5 separate regions of the Homo sapiens genome follow, and regions 1, 3, 4 and 5 are each reported to be linked to region 2. Evidence: microRNA targets listed by miRTarBase, many of them from high-throughput screens and not tested one by one. Region 2 holds a microRNA gene; each other region holds the end of a gene's coding sequence.
Evidence for each region. The annotated mature microRNA hsa-miR-499b-5p reads ACAGACUUGCUGUGAUGUUCA and lies in region 2 at 1,511-1,531, shown strand. An mRNA with a match to its seed (bases 2 to 7 or 8) in the 3' UTR can be bound and repressed. Matches are read on the target gene's strand: a 7mer-m8 pairs with bases 2 to 8, a 7mer-A1 pairs with bases 2 to 7 and ends in A, and an 8mer does both.

Region 1 (4,504 bases), not on the chromosome of region 2:
GGCTTTGTGGAGGGATGTTCCTGTTTACTCTTTGGAACCTGGGAGATCAGTCATTTGATGATCTTTCCCAGCCTCCAGAAAACGTTGGCCTGAGAGTCCCAAGTCTGAAATCACAGTCCAGACCTCAGAGCTGGAAGAGACTTTAGACACCATCTGGAGCCCAGCGTCCTCAAACATCAGTGATCAGCTGGGGTCTTAGGTAAACACACAGCTATCTGGGTCCCGCCGCCAGAGGCTGATTCAGTAGGTCTGAGGTGCAGCCCAGGGTCTGGCTGCTCTGAATGTGCACCCACTAACTCTGATATGGGAAGTTCCAGGATGCCATTCCAGGAACGCTGGGTCTAGTCTAATGGCCCCACTTGACAGATGGCGGCACCAAGGTCCCCAAGACTTCAGAACTGCGTGAATGGATCAGCAGAACTCCACCTCCTGCCCCATGGATTAGGGCTTTTCCAGCATCTCTGCCATCTCTCCACTCCTGGCAGCCATATACCCCTTCCGGCCTCTCCTCCTGCCTGCCTGAGCCCAGGGGGCAGACCCTCGCAGGCTTCCCCTGCCTTCCTGGGTCCTCCACAATGCTTCTGCGGGCTCCTGCCCTGAGCCTTGGTGTGAATACACTCTTCACACCCACAGCTGCCTAGAGCCGGAGCCCCTGCTCCAGGGAGACTTCTCTGCCCATCCTGCCCACCTGCACACGCATTTCCTCCCCCATCCAGACTGTGCCTGGCCCCAGCGGGAGGAGGAGTTCAGCTGTTTGCAAAAGTGAAGGGGAACTGGGCAGCTCAGGGGCCCCGGGTACTGGAGGGAGCAGCCCTGGACCCAAGTTCCTGTATGAGCATGTCACAGAATCCAGTGGTGATGGCAGCTCAGGGGCCAGCATTGGGGCTGGCTGGACTGGCTAGTGGTCCAAGCAGCCCATATGGGGGAAAGAGAAGGCCTGGCTAGTGTCTGAGGTTGGGAGTCAGGTAGCTGTTGGAGTCTTTCTGGGAGGCACAACCAGGCTGTCCTGGCTGGGAAAGCTTCGGGGTGGCTGTGGACTGACTTGGGTCTCCAAATTCATATGATAAAGCCCTTGCCCCCACTGTGACTGTCTGGAGACTTTCACGAGTTCATAAGAACACGGCCTGATCCAATAGGACTGGCGTCCTTCTACAAGGAAAAGACCCGAGGGATCACTTTCCTTGCACACAGGGAGGAAAGGCCATGTGAGGACAAGAAGGGAGAGGCCTCTCCAGAAACCAGCCCTGCCAGCACCTTGATCTTTGGCTTCCAGCCTCAAGAGCTGTGAGAAAATGCTGCAGCCCCAGTGTGTGGCATTTTGTTATGAAGATTAGAGCAGATGGATACATCAGCCATGGCCCACGCTGTCCTTTCGCTGTCCTTTCTCCTCCAAGAACCTCATCCTTTCCCCCGAGGCTCTGGCCTATCCTCTGCAGACCCTGTGTGGCAGCTGGGCACTGGGAAGATGTAAAGGGCCCCTGGGCCCCACTCTTTGAGCAGTGGGTCGCTGGGCTGATGTCTCCCAGTCCTGCAGCCTCTGGGTCCTGTCCTGAGTTGCTAACCACTCTCTCCTCTTTGGCACTTTCTCTGGTGCATGGAGGCTTACACAAGTCGAATGTGGCTCTGTCTCCCGTGGGACCACATGGCCAAGGCCTCAGCTCTGCCAGGGTCCTGCTCCTTGGACAGTGGACATGGGAGAGATCGGGCCAAAAAGCACCACATTACCCTCCATGACAAGCTGTGCCGCAGCCTGTGGAGACATGGCAGCCCTGGCCCCTGCCACGGCCCCTGGGCCTCAGATCATGCTTTCTGCAGCTGTTCCTCATCAGGAACCATGTCCCGCCCAGCTGGGCCCTCCCCTTTCCCTCCTCTACCTGGGAGATATGACCCCTGGGTGGGCCATGAGGGCAACAGTGTATCCTAGAAACAGGCAGGCACAGCGGCAGCTTAGTGGCCGGTGAGCACCCTCACCATGTCTCCTTGGGGGAGAGGGAGAGGTATCTACAAATTAAACCGCCACTCACACAGAAACTTGAGTCTGAGCTAAATGAAAAACAGATTTCACATGGCAAGTGGTACCTACAACTTTTCTGGAAAGCAACTGTGTATTTACACAACAGTGGACGCCTTTTACATTGCAGAGGGGCGGGTAAGAGCGGGATGGCTAGGAAGCTACAGCACCTATTTGGTTATGAACACAGCATTTTCAGATGGCTGGGGGAATAGATGCCACTTCCCACTCAAGACAGGGATTTGCTCAGCGGGAAAGCAGGTAATAAAGGCAGCACATCCTGCACTTTGAACTGCATCCGTCTCATCCTGCAGCCACCCTGTAGCTCAAAGCACAGTTCTGGAGCCTATTAGGTCCAAATCTCAATCTACCCTTGAGTCAGCGAGGCCTTAGGCAAGAGGTCCCTCGAAGTCTGTCTTCCTGTGGCAGATGAGGACGGCCACACCACAAGGCAGTCGCTGGGCCGGGGCCCGTGTCCGAGGTGGCAGTGTGCTTGGGCTCCATGTGCCTAGCCCGTGCGTGTGTTCATCACTGGCAGCGGTGACTGCGTGCTGCTTGGGGGAGAGCACTTGAGCTGCCTCAGAACACCCTGGTGAGCGGAGGACACTTGCATGGATGGAAGCAGGACCGAGGCACCGTGTTGGTCCCTGTGAGACTCTGGGTGCACTGAGCTTTGGGGAGGGGTGGTGGCACAGACCTGGGCCTTTCTACTCTCCTGGCACACAGCAGTCAGCGCTCCCACTTCCCTTCTCCACTACGGTGTTTCTCTCTGGTGTGGTTTGGGTGGAAGTTACCAGAAACGCAAAGCCCTGGCACTGCTACTTCTCCTGGGGGAGAACAGATTTGTGGCCTGCCTTTCGCCAGGAGGGCTCCTGGCCTTGCCTTGCTGATCGGCAGAGACTTGCTCCTCAAAGGGAAGGGGTAGTTGGTCCTTCTGAGCCATGTTTCCAACCCATCTGGTAGGCTGGTCCCCTGCCCCGCTCTCACTGCAGCCCTGGGCCCGCTTTTCCTCTGGCCCTGCATGGAAGGGCCTGACCCACTGGCTTTACAGACACATGGTCACAGAGGGCCAGGGTCAGACTGAAAAGCCAAGTCTTTCAGCAGCAAAAATGGCGAAGATATCAAAGGGCGTCAATGCTGCTGGCTTGGCTTTTGCAGCAGGTCTCACCTCGGGAGGTGATGCCGGGCGACCTCCTTTCAGTCCTCCATGGCTCAGCCTGGCAGCTCAGGAGTGGGCATGCTGCGGCAGGTCCCATCTCACTACGCTGGGGCAACCATGCATGGGCACAGCTGCATGCAGTACTCTGCTCCTGGGGTCCACCCCAGCTATGATTCCTGAAGTGAATAAACCCTAAGTCACTTAGCAACTCACCCTTCAATCCTCTTCAACCTTCCTGAAATAGCAAAGTAAACCTTAGGTGGGTCAGAGTTCCACCCAAAGGCGAGCCTCTGTAGACACCTGCCATCCAATGGACCTTTGGGGACCCCCCTTCCCTTTCAACCTGGCTGGACTGCAGCAATACCTCCTTTATTTGATCCCTGTTTATGTCCACATATGTACTGTATTATCACAGATGCAACTGATTTATCATAGAGCACTCAGAAAACATGGAAAAGTATTTTTAAAAATCGAATAATCCTATTCAAGTCAACCAGTGTTAACCCCGGTGTGCTTCCTGCCAGTCTGTTCCTCCCCATGGGAGTCACACAAAATGAAAATCTCCTAGAAAGAGAAATTCCTCTGTCCTCTGACTTCTTCACTTAGTACGCTGCGACCTTCCCATGTTGTTCAACATCCTCAACTCGGAGCGTCACTGGCTGGAGGTGGTCTATAAATGGAATTGGCTTAACTATCTCTTCACTGAAAGGTGGACATTTAGGGAGTGTCCAGTTTTCAGCTGTCATAAACAACTGCCTTAGACGGCAAAGAATTCACAGGTCAATCGTTCCCTTCGCTTTGAACTTCTTCGCAGACCGTTCACTTGACCGAAGCTGGAATTTGCTCCCGTAAATGTAGGAAATAAAGCCATCGGTTTCCACAGTGAACACGCAGTTTAGCTTGGGGATAACTGAAAAAAAAAAAAAAAAAGGCAGGAGAAAAAAAGATGAGGAAAAATATTTATTAATATTTTACTTTTAGGTAGAATATTATTCAGAACACATTGAATGAAAAAAATAAGCTAATAGGAAACGGGAAACCCACAAGGGGAGGGGCATTAGGGTTGCCTGTGGTTATTCTGCCACAGGTCAATCTAGTCACATGCTAAATGTAGCTTGGCACCTAATCTTCAGGGTCAAAGGCTATACACCAAATTCCCAGAACCAGAAAGTCCCAGAACACCTGCCAGAAACTGGTTTTCCCACATTAACTTTCAGATGGGCTCCTGGCCTTATGCTCTGTGGAGAAACTATTACACCACTTTCCGAGGTTTACAATGTGAGGTAGAAGGATATGTAGGAAAATAAGGGAAGCAACAAGAAAAACCAAGCTCA
Region 2 (4,504 bases):
CTCATTAAACAAAGCATGCAGTCCACCAGACTGTGAGATGTTTCACAGCCAAGAAAAACGGATGACGATGGCAGGCATACGCCTGGGGATAAGGAACGATCTCCAGGCCAGACTGTTAGAAAAAACAAGGTCACAGCACCATGCGTGTGTGTGCGTGTATGGTATCTGTGTGAACCTCTGTTTACAAAGGATAGTGTGGATGACACCATGACTTCTGGAGGGAGAAGGAACGATGGATGCTTGTTGCCCATTGAGGGAACGGGGAGGAGCTGGCAGCACTGCCCAGGTGCTTGCTATGTGCCAGGTGTCTCATGAAGCCTCGTCCACATGATTCTCGTTCAACTCCCAAATCTGCATCCTTTCTGCCCGCTGCCCTGAGCTCCAGATTGATAATCCCAATCTCCCCCATGACTTTTCTAGGATGTCTGCTGGAGGCATTTCAAACCTGATACACGCAAAACAGAGCTCAAACCAGTATCCCTTCACCTCTCCTCCAAATCAAAAAACCCTGTTTTTGTAGCTCAGTAAATCTACCACTGGTAGCTCCCAGGTTGCTCACTCCCAAAACTAGAAATCATTCGTCTTTTCTGCATCCAGAATTCCATGTCCAGCTTATCAGCGAGGCCTGTAGGCTCCACCTCCACTATTTGCCCCAAGCCTATTCACTTCTCCCCAAGTCCCCGGCCAGGTCTGAGCCACCCCCATGTCTTGCTGGGATACCTGGCCAGGCCCCTCACAGTCCCTGCTTCCCCCTCCAGACAGGGGACCGTCTGTTGGGCTCTGATATGTGTGTCCTGCCCAGCCCCTCAGGCCTCCACCTGGAGCAGCAGGCAGGGGGAAGGGGTCACCCACCGCTGCCGGAAGTCGGTGTAGAGCAACCTGTTGGGGAACCCTTGGCGGCAGATCCGGATCCCCTCCAGGACCCCATTGCAGCGCAGCTGGTGTAGCACCAAGAAGGCATCCATGACCCCTGGACGTGAGAGGGGAAAAGGTCAGAGGTCAACAGGCACACCCGCAGGCCCCAGAGAAAAAGCAGCAGTGGAGACCCTGCGAGGTGAGGGGGAAGATGTACTCAGCCTCCCGGCCTCTGCCCTGTCACCTTCCCATGATGCCTCCCGGCCCCAGCCAGGCCAGCCCTGGGTGACTACCTGGGGTTTTGTTCTCGTTGGGGACAATGCAGCGGACGAAGTGGGGCTGTGTGGCCCGCAGGTTGGTCATCAGCTTGTTGAGGTTCTCCTGGCAGTGGGGAAGAGTGAGGGAAAGGCACAAAGGGGGCAGAGAACCAGAATTGGATGCCGCAGTGGTCAGGACCGAGACGGGAGCAGGGCCCTAAGTGCCCTGCACTTTTGCTCTTTCACTCTCATTCTGGTGATGGGAGACCCTTCGCTGTCTCCCATCACCACCACCAAAGTCTTCACTTCCCTGCCAAATCCCCGTCCCTCCCAGAGCCCCAGGGCTCCCACCCCTTCCCCACAAACCCTGCCCAGGCAGCGTAGGGACGGGAAGCAGCACAGACTTGCTGTGATGTTCACGTGGAGAGGAGTTAAACATCACTGCAAGTCTTAACAGCCGCCCGCCCAAGGCACAGGGGACAGGGCAGGGGGTGAAGGACGGGGCTGGAGGCTGCCAAGAGGGAGGGTCTGTCTCCCAGATGGGGCCTTACCTTGTGCAGCTGGGACACCGTCTGGAACGATGCTGCCTTCTTACGCTTCTCTTTCACCCCAGACTTGGGGGGCTCAGCTAATAGAGACAAGGGGCCTGGTCACTCCAGGGAATGTCGCTCTGTGGGCCCCTGTCAGAGTGGAGATCTTGTCCCTCCATACTCACTGGAGCAGGAGCCCGCATAATTCTCATAGAGAGTCGCCAGGAGCCTATTCTGTGACTTCTGGAAGATGGGGACCACGGTCTCATTCAGGGGATCCTTGTTTTTCTCCAGCCAGCCCACAATGCTGTAAGGCACCTGGAGAGACAAGTCAGGTGCTGAGCCCGGGTGGGAGACCTGGAGCAGGGCGGGAGGAGCCTGGCCGAGGGCTGGGGTTCCAGCAAGCACCTACCACGCCTGCGTAGTGGACCACCTCGAAGTGGGCCTGGTACTTGCGCTTCTTGTCAGGCCGAGGCTGCTGGAAATTGGGTGACTTCCCCGCGTGGTTGTCGTAGAGCTTGGCCCGGAAGCTGGCGTCTGAGGCCTTGGGGAACATGCATTCCTCCTCCAGGATGGACAGGATGCCCAGTGGCTGGGAACAGAACGAGCTTGAAAAGCCACCATCAAGCCAGTCCATCCTGGAAGGACTGAACCCCTGGTTCCCCAGGCCACCTCCCTTCTGGGAGCCTTCCCAGATCCCCAGCTTCAGCCATCTCCCCGGATGGTCAGACACCACACCCACTCCAAGAACCCATCTCCTAACAGAGAAAAGTTTGTGGCTTGGCTCCAGTCCCCTCCTGCAAAATCTGCAGCACTGAGGTGTCATCTTCACTTCTAACAATGGCAAACCCAAGCTGGCATCTCTGTACCCACTCTCACCCCCGCCACAGCCATGGCTGTCACACACAAACATGGGGTAAGTCAAAAAAAGCCATCAAGTTCACATTTTGGCTTCCTCACTCACTAGCTGTGGGGCCCTCCGACATCACTAAGCCTCAGTCTTCTAACCTGCAGAGTGGGAAGATGAATGTCTTCAGTGCTGACATAATATTTAAAAAGCTGTCAATCACCTAAACGCCCAGCTGTAGGGGACTGCAGAAATGCATCGTATGAAACTCATCCACTGCATGAACTACTCTTGCCATGAGCAGCATTCAAAATACATTTTCAGAGAAAAAGTAGGATATGAAATGAAATCTGTGTCTATAAAAGAAAATGGATAGGCCAGGCGCAGTGGCCCACGCCTGTAATCCCAGCACTTTAGGAGGCCAAGGTGGGTAGATCACTTGAGGTCAGGAGTTCGAGACCAGCCTGGCCAAAATGGTGAAGCCATGTCTCTATTAAAAATACAAAAATTAGCTAGGTGTGGTGGCGCATGCCTGTAATCCCAGCTACTTGGGAGGTTGAGGCATAAGAATTGCTTGAACCCTGGAGGCGAAGGTTGCAGTGAGCTGAGATGGTGCCATTGTACTCCAGCCTGGGCGACAGAGTGAGACTCCATCTCAAAAAAAAAAAAAAAAAAAAAGGGATAAAGGATTTCGAGGAAATGAACCTAAGTGTCATGTGACTGGCTGTGATAGGAATGGGGAGAAACATTTTTTCCCCTGCCAATTTTTCAAATTTTCTTTCTTCCATTCTTTGTACAATGGGTAAATATACATAATGTTCCACAATCACAAAAACAAGGAAACACACCCTGCCCTGCACCCAGGGCAGTTCTAGGGATCCAGTGAAATTGTGGCTGCAAATAGGGCCTTGTGAGCTGCAGAATTCTGAGCACCCAGGAGGAGCTGTTGTCCACAGTACTGGGATGCATGCATTCACACTGCTCACACACTCACCAAGGCTCACTCATGGTCAACTCCAACACACCCACTCACACACGTGCCCTTTCACACACAAGCACATAAACGCTGTCACAACTACACTCACATGCATGCTTACTGCAACGCACAGTCACACGCTTCCATGCACACTTGCAGGCTTCCATGCAAGCCATGGTCATCCATCCCTGCTTGCTCACCACACACACCCTCCCTTCCTCAAAGTGACCTTGCCGCGGCACCCACCTTCTCGATGAGGTCGATGCAAGGCTGCAGGTCAAGGCCGAAGTCGATGAAGACCCAGTCGATGCCCTCCCGCTTGTACTCCTCCTGCTCCAGCACAAACATGTGCTGGTTGAAGAACTGCTGCAATTTCTCATTGGTGAAGTTGATGCACAGCTGTTCGAAGCTGTTGAACTACAAGAGGGAGGGGCCTGGCTCAGCAGACCTCTCGCAGATGGGGAAAGGGAGGCCCGGGGAGGGGCATGAGTTCACCCCCAACTTCCAGGCAGAAGGCCAGGGCTTCTGCCCCCCCACAGGCCCATGTCCTCTACCTTGGAGAGAACAGAGGCCAAGGTGAGGGCCTGTCCTCACCTCAAAGATCTCAAACCCAGCGATGTCCAGAACCCCGATGAAGAACTGCCGGGGCAGCTTTGTGTCCAGGGTCTGGTTGATCCGAGACACCAGCCACCTGAACAGCCGGTCATAGGTGGCCTTGGCCAGAGCCCCCACAGCAAACACCACCTGGAGGTGCAGGGAGGCTGGGCTGGGACCTGGCAAGGAGGGGACCCTGCCCGGCTGTCCCCCATGGGTTTGGCCTGCAGGCAGCTCACCTGCTCCACACTCTGGCCCTTGGTCACGTACTCGTTCCCTACACGCACCCGGGGGTGCAAAAGGCCTTTGAGGAGGTCCCCACTGCTGACCCCCATCAGGTAGGCAGCCTTGTCAGCACCTGGCAGGGCACGAGTGGGGTAAGGGAGGAGGACACCACCATGCGCACTCAGGGGCTCTACTGCCTCAGCCTGGGGCTAGGAGAGGG
Region 3 (4,504 bases), not on the chromosome of region 2:
TAACCTATGTATCACTCCGGGAGAAAAAGATTTACCACCACTTCCAATCCCAGTGGTTAAAGTCTCAGGGATTGGGAACTGAGTAAACTGATTATCAATGCTAAGGAGAGGCTAAGAGATGAGCTCTCTTACCAACCCATTTCACATCTGTTACAGAGGACTATAAAAGAAGCAGGGGGCTGGGCCCAGATTTAAGGGTAAGCTTCAGTTATTTACGAGAATATTCAGCCCATATCAGTAGGCTAAAAATGAGAGAGGGTTATAGGAATAAAGATGACTCAGTTTTCTGGAGGTGCTCAAGACTGTTTCTCTTGGGGATTCTATGGTGAGTGCAGGTGCAAGAGGACAAAGTGTAATGACTCTCTTCCCCCACCTCATGGGGAGGCTTGGGGGCTGGTTCCCCTGTTTATTCCCTATTTCTCTGGATTTTAGCCTACACAACATCCTCAGTACACTATGAAACAATCCCTGAGAATTCAGGAGGGCCACAGTCGCAAAAACCTCAAAGTGCCCTGTGCAGGTTCTCTCTGCTTTCAGAAAGACAAATAACTATGGGATCCTGAAGGAGAGCGTTCTCAGCCTGGTTTGAAGAGTCCCGGTCTCCCCTAGGTCCTTTAGCTTCCTGTTTTAACTGCCTGCCTCAATGCCCAGGCAGCTACTAACAATTGCTGTATAACATCCACAGAACAGACCAAAGGTGGTGGAAAAAACTTACCAAGGGAAGGGGGAGTACAAAGGTTCAGGGAGGCAGAATGGGGAGCAATTCGATCTTGATGTCACCAACCCTTCACAAACACCAAGAATACGCCTAAAGACATTAAAGTAATTGAGCGGTCCAAGGCTCTATTCTAAATTTGCACCCTATAGAGCCCTTATTTTCTAAGGTTTTAGGATACTTAACAAATTTTATAAAATGTAGGTCTTTAAAAAAGCCTAAATGAGCTTTCAAAGCAGAAATAGAATGAAACTTGTTCTCTAATCACAATGTAGCAAAACCAAAAATTAAGAGGAAAATGGCAACATTGTATATCTCTTAAGTCAAAGAGGAATTATAATGAAAACAACAACCATTTTGAAATCATCAATAAGAACATTACATATAAAAGCTATGAAGTATGTCCAAAGCCATAAAGAGAAGAAATCTATAGCTTTAAATGCTTTTATCATTAAACTACAAAAATGAGAATATAATACGGGGATATTTATTGAAAGCTTACAGTGTGTAGGGCCAGAGCAAAATATATTTCATTTAATCTTCATAGTACTTTTGAGGTAGGTACTGTAATTTCCCCTTTATAATAGCTAGGAGGTAGGTACTGTATTTTGCCCTTATCTTTTTGAAATGCTCAGAAGTACAATTAGACATAGAAGTATAATTATCCATGCAATGTTCTAAATATGTTATCTGTTTCCAAGAACTATTTCATGTGTTTCTTGATTCAATACCAGAAATATTTATTCTTATATATAGGGCACTGTAACAAAGAATATTAGACATTCTCTAACTTGTAAAAATCTAGTCAAGTATATTTGATATAAATGAGAGGGAGGATGCAACTCATATTATGATTGCAACTAACCCTACTAGCCAAAAATGGACTGTATTAAATGCTAAAAATGATGCATAATCACAGTGCCATGGTTGCAGAGAGAAAAGCGATTCCAACTTGGGATGAGGACAGAGTCAATTGCCATGCTTGTTGCCACTGTTCAGGGAAGAAGCTCTAAGTTGTTCAAATAATTAATTAGTGCAAGTGAAGCAGGAAGAGCACATACATTTCCGCTTTATTCAAATATTGCATAAATACAGAGCAGTTGGGCACATCCATTCTAAGGCACTGTTCTGGTTTGAATGCAATTCCACAAGAGAGAAAAGAGAAGCCATTACATTCTGTATTTTTCATCTCTACATTCAGACTCCTCCTATATTATATGTTTATTGCTACTGGGATATCAATTTGAGCCCCAGACTTATAGCAGCATCATATGTTGACCTGGATGACAAGAATTAAAGATACATCCTGGGTCTAGCAATTGGTATAATTGGCACTTAATTACAAACTCTCTTGCATTATTCTCCACCTGTTTCCCAACTCTTGTTTAACTAAAAATATTATAAAATCTTTATGAGCCTGATCCATGAATTATATTTCTTTACTAGCTTCCACTAAGCCTAGAACAGGACTAGTTAGGCACATAGTAGATACCCCCCAAAGTATTTATATCACTCTCGAGAACTTCAATGGAATAAAGACATATACTTTTCCTAATTGTAGTTCAAGGAAAGGATGACTGAACATCTTCATAAAGGGAAAATGCCTGAATGTCTTATTTCTTGTATTTTATAACAAGGAACTAGGCTCAATGAATATTTTCATGTTTTAACAGGTTTAACTGACAATGAGAAGTCTTCCCTTGCTTTGGGAATTTGAGCTGTTACCATGATTACATGAGAACATTTATATAAGTAGCAGTGTGTGTGTGTATGTAATTATAAGTAAAATTCAAAGAGGTTGAGAATCACTGGGAAACTTATACATTATCTGAATTAGTGATCCTCAGCTTCTTAAAATGATATGTGTATATACATATGTGTGTGCGTGTGTGTGTAAATGTAAGTAAAATTCAAAGAGATTGAGAATCACTAGGAAACTTAAAAATTATCTGAATTAATGATCCTCACCCCCTTAAAGTAGTATGTGTGTGTGTCTCTGTGTGTGTTACACAAATTCATATATATTTTAAGAATTTTTCATAACACCCTTAAAACAACTGGAGATAACTAGGCTTGGGAGCAACATAACTATACTGACAGCTATAGAAATATCTGTTTAAGGCAGTGTGTTCCAAGAGACATTTGCAGAATATTAGTTCTGTAGCTTATTATTGGGTATATGAAAAAGGTTTTGGGGTCAAATAAGTTTGGAAAACATTGAGCCAAAAGAGGTGCTTTTTCTCTCCTTTCTAGAGGACCTCTCAGAGATTCTCATATGCTGATGTGTACTATGAACCTAAGAAGGCGAAACAGCAGGAAGTAATTCCCAAATATATTTGCAGAATATCTAGCAGAACTAAGTATTCTATGACACATACATAGGGAGATGCTGAATTAAAGAATGGGTAAAATTTTAAAAAGCACTAAAAGACACATGATTGAATACCAAAGGAGAGTGAAATACCAAAGGAGAGCAAAAGACCCTGGTTCTTCAGTCAATCAAAATTAAATTAGATTCTGCTTGTATAATTTCAAGCTTAAAATCTTAATTTCCTTAAACATAACAAATTTCAGTGGAAATAACCCAGTTCTTACCAGGCAAATGACATCCCCTTCATCCTTGTGTTCCTGACACATTTTTATTGTTTGACAAAATTCACTGTCTCCTTTCTTGCCACATGGGACACATCTAAAGCTTTGAATGAATATAATCATCTTTAATAATGACAGCAGAATAACTATAGTACTGCTATAATCAATACGTCTGATAGACAGGTTTATCCACTATATTGACCCTACCTCTAAAAGGATTGTCATAATTTATATGCTTTATGTTTACACCTATGATACAGTTGCCTTGGAACACAAAATTTTTCATTGTAATTAAAAAAAGAAGAGTTGTGCAGACAGAAGAAATCAAATCTAAGAAAATCACAGGAGTAGATAAATACTCTAGAATTCATATACCTTGGAAGATGGGTTTTAAAACTAGTAAAAAAAAAAGCTGTCTATGTTCTTATAAGCTCAAACAAAAGCTTCCAAGACAAACAGCCTGCTGCAGGTTAAGATTTTTTTTGAGTTAGTGTCAATTTGTGTAAGACCTGTTTCCCTTAGCAATTCTTAAATAAGTCCTCTAAAGTGAGTGACCTGGTGCATAATAAGGCCGGCTCTCTGTCTGAAGCTTTTAGAACAATGAGTACACTTGTATGGCTTCTCCCCTGTGTGGATTCTTAAATGAATAACGAGGCTTGGTCTCTGTCTAAAACTTTTCCCACAATAATTACATTTAAAAGGTCTCTCTTCAGTATGCGTTCTCTGGTGCAAAGTAAGAGCTGTCAGTCGACTAAAACTTTTCCCACAATTATGACATCTATGAGGTTTTTCACCTGTATGAGTTTTCAGATGTCTTTTAAGACTTGATCCATGACAAAAACTTTTCCCACACTCAAGACATTTATATGTTTCTTCTTCAGAATGGGTTCTCTGGTGCCCTATAAGATGTGACCGCCGAGTGAATCGCTTTTTACATACAGTGCATTCATAGGGTCTCTCCCCTGTATGAAGTCGTTGGTGTCTATAAAGGTCTGAACTACGAAGGAATCTTTTCCCACATTCAGGGCATTTGTGAGGTTCTTCTCCTGAATGAATTCTCTGATGCCCAGTAAGTTGTGACTTCCGAGCAAAACATTTTCCACACTGAGGACATCGGTGAGGTTTCTCTCCTGGACTCTTTTTCTTGTGGGGTTTAGGGTTGAGAGGTTCTTCCAAGTTGGAGTTCTCAGGTGTCTC
Region 4 (4,504 bases), not on the chromosome of region 2:
GAATACTGCTTATATGATCCCTATCTGGTTCCTTGCTTTGTGATTAATGTTCAGTTTCAGAGAGCCTCAAAGAGTCAAGCCTTTTATTTGTATGAAATTCCAAAAGCAAGTGATAAGCTGTGTTTTTAATTGGCCACCTGCATCCACAATTTAAAATCTGCATGAGAAAAGGAAGGATGCCCTTTGGAAAAAATGTTTCTCCATATGTTCACACAAAATGAGTCTTAGAAATAATTTTTAAAATTAAGAATCTTACGTAATGTTACTTTTTGAAGCTAGAGACTTAATTTGAAAGTGAAAGTCATTAATCCTGGCAGAAATGTACTGTGTTAATAATGCGTTTCTTTCTACAAACAGGAGAACCCTGCCTATGAGGAATATATAAGACCACTTTTACAAAGTTGGAGATCCAAGCTATGAAATAACCAACAGTATTCAAGAAGCAACCAGCACCATCATGTGATAATGGTACTATGGCATATATGCAACATTAAAATTTTAAATTAGATATTTATGTTTTAGAGTCATTATCTTTTAGATACAGTCTGAAGTGATATATGTGAAATAATATCTGTGATTTACTTCAAAATAATCCATAGGAGAAAAAAGCCAAAGTGAACAGTTGTTGAAGCTGGTCAATGGGCAGGTACATGAGTGTTCATTACACTATCCTCTCTACTTCTGAATGTGTTTGCAATTTCCAGTGGGGCGTGGTGGATCATGCCTGTAATCCCAACACATTAGGAGGTCAAGATGAGAGGATCACTTGAGCCTAGAAGTTCGAGACCAGCCTGAGCAACATAGAGAGATGCCATCTCTACAAAAATAACTATCTCACGCCTGTAATACCAGCACTTTGGGAGGCCGAGGCAGGTGGATCACGAGGTCAGGAGATCGAGACCATCCTCGCTAACACGGTGAAACCCCGTCTCTACTAAAAATACAAAAAAAGTAGCCAGGCGTAGTGGTGGGCGCCTGTAGTCCCAGCTACTTGGGAGGCTGAAGAAGGAGAATGGTGTGAACCCGGGAGGCGGAGGATGCAGTGAGCCGAGATCGCGCCACTGCACTCCAACCTGGGTGACAGAGCGAGAGTCCGCCTCAAAAAAAAAAAAAAAAAAAAAACTGGCCAGGCATGGGGGTACATGCCTGTGGTCCCAGCTATAGGGAGGCTGATTGCCTGAGCCCAGGAGGTTGAGGCTGCAGTGAGCCGTGATCACATCACTGCATTCCAGCCTGAGCAACAGAGTAAGAACCTATCTCGAAAAAGAAAAAGAAAGAAATTTCCCACAGTAAAAAAACCGTACCACTGTCCATTTATAGCATCTATTTGGTTAAATACAAGGATTTTGCTGTAGATCTAGCAAAAGCCAATAGGCTCATTAGTTAGTGTGTTTTTCGCACACATTTATCCTTGGGTTTAAAAGGACACACATACATGCACACACACAATCCTCCTAAGTGCGTATACTTGCTGTAATCTAAATAAAATACAGCTCTAAGAATGCAACTATCATTTTTTAAAAATCAACTCTTCCACAGTGATGATTTAAAATTTCATTAAAAGACATAACTGTCTCAAGTTACCCAAATAAAATGAAGCTACATTTTTCATATCATTTTCAATTGCCCAATTAGACAAAACACTCTAAATGTCACTAGACAAGTAAAATGGCAAAAAAAAAAAAAAAAAAAAAAAAAATTCAGCTGGCTACTTTTCCTAATTTACTCATATAAACAATCATTTCATTGTTAATAATCAGTAAATTTGAGAAAATTTACCAAAAGCAAACTTATCTCCAGTAAACAGGACAAGGAAGAGGCCTCATAAGTTTTTAACTTTTAAAAACTTGGGATGGGCGCAGTGGCTCATACCTGTAAACCCAGCACTTCGGGAGGCCAGGGCAGGTGGATCACCTGAGGTCAGGAGTTCAAAACCAGCATGGTCAACATGGTGAAACCCTATCTGTACTAAAAATACAAAAATTAGCCGGGCATGGTGGCGCACACCTGTAATCCCAGCTACTCAGGAGGCTGAAGCAGGAGAATCACCTGAACCTGGGAGGCACGGGTTGCAGTGAGCCAAGATCGCGCCACTACACTCCAGCCTGGGTGACAAGAGTGAGACTCTGTCTCAAAAATAAATAAATAAAAATCATTTAAAAATAAAATAAAAATAAAAACTGGAAACTAGTATTATTCCTATTTCCCCACTTGTTTTCAACCCAAATCATTTTATTTCATATTGACCTCAGCTAGCTCAACAACACGTAACTGGTTGGGCCTTTTTTTTTTTTAAGGTAACTATCAAATCAATTTTAAATACAAGATAATTTTCCAAAATGATAACCTTGTACTCGTATATTGATTTACTGAAACCACAGCAACCTGTCAATAACATCAAAGGATCTTAGTTTGAAGATGGTGAAAATAGGGTAATTACAGGTTTCTGGATGTGGGTCATTTGTCACATTTTAAAATAAATTTTCAGAGACGTGGGCAAAAATAGACATAAGGAAGTGTTGTCATCTTCCTTGCAGAGAGAGAACCTCAGAATATTCTCACAGAGAGAAGGAGAAAAGGAGTGGCCTGCTTGCCCCAGGGCACACAGCCTCAGAGCTCCACTCTTCCCTTAGAAAATAGGGAATAAATTACATGACTTCCTTTTATACTGTGGTCTAACAAAGTAGGAAGTCTCAGTACAATTAAAATAATCCTTCCTATGAGTTACTTTCAAGAAATAGAAGCACATGAACTATGCAAAATAAGACTACAGTGAAATAAATAAAAGTACGTGTATTTCTCCAAGTACGTGCATTTCTCCAACCGTTCTAGGTCATTCATTCACTGCAGTTTGTTTCTTCTCTTCAGAAATAAACTTAACTTTGTTAACAAAATACATTTGTCGATTACCACAAAACATGAGCATAAAGGGCTAAAGTCATTTTGTTCCTGTGCTTAGCACAAAACTGAAATAATGGTCATAGAACTGTGGGCAATTAAAGTAAAATCTGTAACCTTCAACATAAATTCTTTTGAAAAAATATGAAAAACTGTATGTTCACTGTTCAAATATGCACCCTTTTAGTCAAAATTAATAATTCCATCCATCCTTGTTTCAGTGACGCAACAGTTCTTATAAACTGCAACCTAAGATCCCACTGTGTCCTCTCAAATCAAATACAAATGTGCTATGGGCAGTAAACACTGGGACATAAACAATGCATATTTTAGACAAGAAATATGATTTTCTCCCCTTAAGTAATAATAATCAATAAATACAAACTTAATTTTCATATTTCATTTTTTATTAGTTTTGTTTTTTTTTTCTGGTAGACAGTACACTTGGGAATTATACTGCACCAGGCATAAAGAGTAAGTTTTCTACCACAGGGACATTTTGTATTCAGAATTCAATATAAATATTTCTAGTCAGACATTTCCATGGCTACAGATATTTGGTTCCTTGATTTATATGCATAGAAAGAAACAGTTGTCATAACTGTAAAAAGCAGTACTTAATAAGTACTTTTAAATGATTGGAACAGTTTTCCTTTAATATTACAATACTACTTATTTATTGGTTTGGAAACTAGGTCACCCTACATGATGTTTTGATTTTTCTCAAAGGCATCATGAGTACTCTGCTTATTCTTTCATTCTTGTATTTTTAGCCTTCTAGTTGAGTTAGGGACCATTTTATCAGAAATCATTTTAGCACTGTAATAAGAAAAGCTCTGTTAAGGGTAGATTATATACCATAATGATTTTCAGACTTCTTTTTATAAAAAAGGTATCTGGAGACTCTGAACAGGCACATGCATACTCAGGGGGAAGGGAACAAAACATGGAGGAGTCTGCCAAAGCACAAAACTTCCTTCTGGTCCTCACTGCCTTCAAATAAATACAACTATTTAAAAGAAAAAAAATATCTCACACTGTGATTTAAAAAAAAAAATCAGTATCTTCCATTTCCTGGAGAGTCTTTCCAGGAACCTGTGGCAGGGTCGGAGATCAGTCGTCTGTCTTCCGGGCTAGCCTACAGAAAGTCCAGTTGTGCTCCACTGTGTTTTCATTGGCCCGCTCACTCATGTGATGCACCCGGGTGTTGCGGATCGTGAAACCTTGTTTTGTAATGTATTCCATCAGGTGGACCCTAAGAGAAACTTCCTGGTGATAATCACAGGGTCCAAAAGTAAAGGAAACCTGGCAGTCTCTGGTGTCCATCATGTGCTTATTCCACTTGGTAAAATAATTTGAGATGCCTTCTAGTAAGGAATGGACCTTAGTGGTGATGGTTAGTTGCGTTATGATGACAGCCACTGGGTTGGAGTACTTAGAAAGCTTCCGAGTACTAGACAGCTCCACAACTTCTTCAAAAGTATCCATGGGATACAAAGGCTTAGGATCATTGAGACACTGAATCAAGGGCTCAATCTGGTAAAAATCTGCTTCTTTCCGAAGCAGATCAAATTCCTTAAAATCCAACGGTAAGGTCAATTCTGAA
Region 5 (4,504 bases), not on the chromosome of region 2:
ACAAATATATCCAAATTAACTTATTTTTGAAGATAGTTTTGTTTCTTCGATACAATAAAAAATATATAAAGGACCACATAGGCAAACACAAGGAACTAAGATGAAAGAAATGCTATACATGCATTTTGACCAAGTAAAAGAAACCATTATATTCAAGAGTACGTGTTGAATCTGAAATGTCTATGTAAACTGTGGCATATAAATTTTTTTCCTTAAAAAAGTACCTTCAATTTTTTTACTCAAACACTTACTTTTAAAAAAATATGCAACTTTCCCCAATTTTTAAAATAAAATGCCACAATATAGTGTCATTACTTCCAGCATACATTTAAATTTCTTAATTTTTAAAAGATAGACTGGGTGATATGCATACAAACTTTCCTATAAAATCACCATCCAGGAGAGGATTCTGACATGCTATTAGGCAACAGACTCAAAGCAGTGTTATTGCTTTATCAAGGAGGAGATTAACTGTGAGGGAAAAAAAATTAAATATCCAGGTCCGGTACATGATCAAACTGTATTACACCTTGAAAATCTTGAGTCACCTTCAGCAGATCATTAACATAGATGGTACAGAAATTAAGAATTCATGGTATGAATTAAGAATCTGTTTTAACTAAGGGAGTTGGGTGCGTGGATTTTTTATAAAACTACTCACTGATCCGATGCTGAGTATGCAAATAAGCAGTGCTGATTTTGACAAGAAATGAGATTTTTATATTTCACATGTTGTACATGAATGGGGGTGGATATGGGACGTAAAAGCCAAGGGAGACGGGGCCACAGCATCTACTCCCATTTTGGATAGTAAGAGACCATTTAATAACATACAGTAGGCCACAATCCAAGGGCATAGTTGGAAGACCTGAATCTATTATCTTATTAACACTAATCACTAATAATTACATGGCAGGATACCTGCTGAGGTAATTGATAAATCTACAATTTGCACACTTATAAACCTTTTACTTCTATTTAAAAGCATTATTTATTTCAATTAACTAAAAATTCCAAAACTTATCACAAAAAATGAGACAACTGACTTAGCATTACCTAAAATTCCCTTATGTTAAGATACAGAAGTCAGAAAGTACCAACTTGTTGATCCAAAAATAATAATTTCAATAGTGGATCCAATGCCTTATCATTTCTCTGTAGTAATGGTTTGATGTTTCCATATAGAGCACGACCTACAATCTAACCATACTTTAGAACTTTCACATGCTTTGCCTCATAAAGCAATTCCTTCACTCAGTGAATTGGCTGAGCCAAGTGCTGAAAACACAAATTTAGGTCAGCGGAACAGACTGAGCAACACTTTGTTCTTAGTTTTCTGATGGAAGAAGTAAATTGAAGTACAGCAAAAACTTTAAAAGCTTTTAAGAAAACATTATTATGTGGACTTTTCTCCAAATCTTCTAAAATACTGCCATTTAAAAAACAAATACAAATGTGAGAGAGTATAAAAACAAACTGCCTTCAGGGACTGACAGATACAATTTTGTCTTTTTAAAACATAAACTAATAGGAAAACATATATCTAAATATCAATTTAAGTTTTTATACTTTTTAACCATAGGTATATTAGAGCTGAAAAAATCAGCTTAGAAACACAACGATCAGTGTGCAAGAAAAAAGCTTTAATAAAAAATCTAAAGTGAATACCTTAATTTAATGGTGGTATGTTGATAGCTATTAATAGTAATTCCTCAGCAGTATACATTATCTTAACAGAAGTGGAGGCTATTAAATGTTGACAAAAAAGTGGCTTTTAAATTGCTTTAACCAATCTTAAAACCAAAAAAACCTAAAAACTCTATCTAACATGTAATTTTAAGGAAACACAATTATTTTTTAAGGCCCCAAATACTGAAAAATATTTACTTAAAATGTTTCTCCCCTCAGTTGGCAGAATCTATTTATGACTCATTATCTACAATTTTTTTAAAAGGATCCATTTGAAGAGCAATACAAAATATTAGAACTCAAAGGCCTGACAAAATGAAGTTATACTGCTGCTATTCCTCACTTTCCAAAAATGTGCCCTTAGATATATGTCTACTTACAAACTGAAATCATGGATTTTGTGAAAAAAGAGGGAAATTGGCATAGGCATAAGTATTTTTAAATAATTTTCTCCCTCTTATTAAAAAACATTTTTAGGAATTTAAAATTTGAGTAAAATGTTTCAACAGTTTGGTATATTTTCAACGGCTTAAATTATTTTTTAAAAATTGAAAGAAAAGTGAAAAGGAAGCCAGGAATAAAGTAAATCAATAGTAATAATAAAATCAATACTCTTTAAATACACAACCAGAAAGCCTGAATCATATTCCTGTTTACCCCCACCCCTTGTTAAGAAAAGAAAAACAACCCAAAGGAATTTGTATAATAATTTCTTTAGAGCACTTTATTTGATTCAATATGCATTAAAAAATATTGACCTCTTAGACAATTACGTGAAATAATTTTCTGAGTAGTCTACTCTCTGAACTGCTTAAATGAATTTTTAAAAAGGCAAATAAATGATTTGCCACAAATCTGCTGACTTCTGAAAAATATCTAACAGCAAATTCTTCTATTTTGGTCTCTGAATATTCTAATGTGTCCATACAAAAGTAGGACTAAAATCTTTAATCAAACAAAAGAGAAGCCTGTAACAGTGTAGAACACACATTTTGAATCTGAGCATCACAAATGAAGAAAAGAAAAATGAACCAGAGCCAAGTTGGTTTATCGGCCTCGGGTGCTGTAATTGGGGTGGTAAAGGTGGGTTTACTCCAGTAACCATTCAAGTGGGGATTGGCTCATTTTCAGGATTTACTTACAGGTCTCTTCTAAGTCCTTTAAGCCCCCAGTCCATGCAAATGTCCCACTTGGTGGACAGATGAGTAATCTAACCCCACCGGGTTTATTTCAATATTTCGATATTTCAATAATAAGCTGCTTCTGAAGATTTTTTGAGAAGTCTGTTCTCTATTAAAATAAGATAGAACCTCAAAATATGAATGTGAACATTAGAAATAGACAGCATATATTACAAATCCATTCTTGATAGGAACATTAGTAAGAATACACATTAGCTTAAAAAACAGGCTCAGCAAATGTTGCTGATCTGCCAAAAGTTTTAGTTCACTATTTACAAATAAGACAAAGTGAAATACAGAAAATTTTACACATTTGGTAGTTGACAGATACTGTTTGCCAATAGTGGTCTATCAGAAAACTGACATGAAGGAAGACTGGAAAAGAGCCAGTTGTCACCTTCTCAAATTTAAATGTACAGAAAACTAGATTAATTTTGAAACAAACATTCTGCCTTTCATGGGAATAACTGTATGATCACATGATTTGATTGGGAAGTACAATTGTGAGGAAGTGTTTTCTGGAAACAACTACTATAACTCTAAATAATCCACTAATGAAAAGTTACCATTTTTGTTTCAGTAGACCATTGAAGTTGATTAAATGATAACTAGTGGTAGTGTTTCCTAAACCCTAAGTATGAGTAGAAAATAAAACCATTGCTGAGTTCTTTATATCAATTTAAAAACTAAGACCCAACAGCATAAAAATGAGAAAAAACATAATGGCATGATTCAATGCAAATCTGCACTGACATTAAAGTAGAATCTGAGCTACTTGGGTTTTTAACTAGAAAACAACCTGATATGTATGTGTGTGAAGGGGGAGGGTTAAAAGTTGTTTTAATAACTGTGCGACCTAGTCCAAAAAGAAAATTTATCAAGTGACACGAGTCTCAAGTATTTACTCGTATACCAAGTATCCTGCACCAATCAATAGCACACAATCATCAATATTTGCCATTTCTAACAATCAGAGAATCATCTCCATTAGAACAGAAATCCTCAAATCATTTCACTTTTGCTTTTTGCTTTGAAACTTGCAAACAGACTTCTCTCCCCCTTTCTTGACAAGAATGTGTTTCTGTCCATTATTTCAATCTAATACTGTGTAAAAGCTATCAGCTTCTTCAAGGAGGTGCCCACTGTAGGCAGGATATTCCAGCAACACTTAAAAGTTTTCTGGGTTTTTTGTGTTTTTTTTTTTTTTTTCGTTTTTTTTTTTTTAAACAATTGATTTAAATCCATGTCATTTTACTTTATATGTACTGGTCTCTCATCTGACTTTAGGCGTTTTCTGCGGGGCTGTATAAAGTCTTCATCAGAGTCCTCAGTTACCTCACCATCATCCTCTTCCTGCTCAAACTCTGGCAAAGGTGCGAAGGTCCTGTCTGAGTAGATCTCTGTGAGTTTATCTTCAAAGTACAATGCAACTGCTTTCCCTGCCTGAGCTACTTCTGAATCAGCCTGCAAGCAAAAGATAGGAATATTCACCTATTGGTAATGCATATTCCTTCACCAAGTTTGCATGGTCTGAAAAGCTTACCTTCAAATTAATCTCTTGTGTGTCTGCATAAACTTGAACAACTTTCATCATCTAAAAAGGATACCAGAGTCAAAAAAAAAAAAGGGAAATT

Region 1: miRTarBase lists POP4 as a target of hsa-miR-499b-5p. Seed matches in the 3' UTR shown: 7mer-A1 at 3,087-3,093.
Region 3: the mRNA of ZNF449 is a reported target of hsa-miR-499b-5p. Seed matches in the 3' UTR shown: 7mer-m8 at 1,967-1,973 and 7mer-A1 at 1,913-1,919.
Region 4: miRTarBase lists KCTD6 as a target of hsa-miR-499b-5p. Seed matches in the 3' UTR shown: 8mer at 3,768-3,775.
Region 5: the mRNA of TRIM33 is a reported target of hsa-miR-499b-5p. Seed matches in the 3' UTR shown: 7mer-m8 at 3,915-3,921.

What each region holds. Positions count from the first base shown.
Region 1 is chr19:29,614,820-29,619,323 of GRCh38, reverse strand. It overlaps POP4 (POP4 ribonuclease P/MRP subunit), which reads right to left. Exons shown (of 7, transcript NM_006627.3): 7 at 2,087-4,080. The coding sequence ends at 3,944. Among named protein-coding and RNA genes, the nearest start is that of POP4, 11 kb to the right of the region's middle.
Region 2 is chr20:34,987,470-34,991,973 of GRCh38, reverse strand. MIR499B (microRNA 499b) reads left to right here and starts at 1,502; the gene lies at 1,502-1,574. MYH7B (myosin heavy chain 7B) reads right to left here. Exons shown (of 45, transcript NM_020884.7): 17 at 4,299-4,417; 18 at 4,060-4,209; 19 at 3,712-3,882; 20 at 2,055-2,234; 21 at 1,828-1,960; 22 at 1,664-1,740; 23 at 1,149-1,236; 24 at 853-970. It overlaps MIR499A (microRNA 499a), which reads right to left and starts at 1,598; the gene lies at 1,477-1,598.
Region 3 is chrX:135,360,408-135,364,911 of GRCh38, reverse strand. It overlaps ZNF449 (zinc finger protein 449), which reads right to left. Exons shown (of 5, transcript NM_152695.6): 5 at 1,499-4,504. The coding sequence ends at 3,836. Among named protein-coding and RNA genes, the nearest start is that of ZNF449, 18 kb to the right of the region's middle.
Region 4 is chr3:58,501,140-58,505,643 of GRCh38, reverse strand. It overlaps KCTD6 (potassium channel tetramerization domain containing 6), which reads right to left. Exons shown (of 3, transcript NM_001128214.2): 3 at 3,288-4,504. The coding sequence ends at 4,012. ACOX2 (acyl-CoA oxidase 2) reads left to right here. Exons shown (of 15, transcript NM_003500.4): 15 at 358-508. The coding sequence ends at 420. Among named protein-coding and RNA genes, the nearest start is that of KCTD6, 11 kb to the right of the region's middle.
Region 5 is chr1:114,393,527-114,398,030 of GRCh38, forward strand. It overlaps TRIM33 (tripartite motif containing 33), which reads right to left. Exons shown (of 20, transcript NM_015906.4): 19 at 4,414-4,464; 20 at 1-4,334. The coding sequence ends at 4,122. Among named protein-coding and RNA genes, the nearest start is that of TRIM33, 120 kb to the right of the region's middle.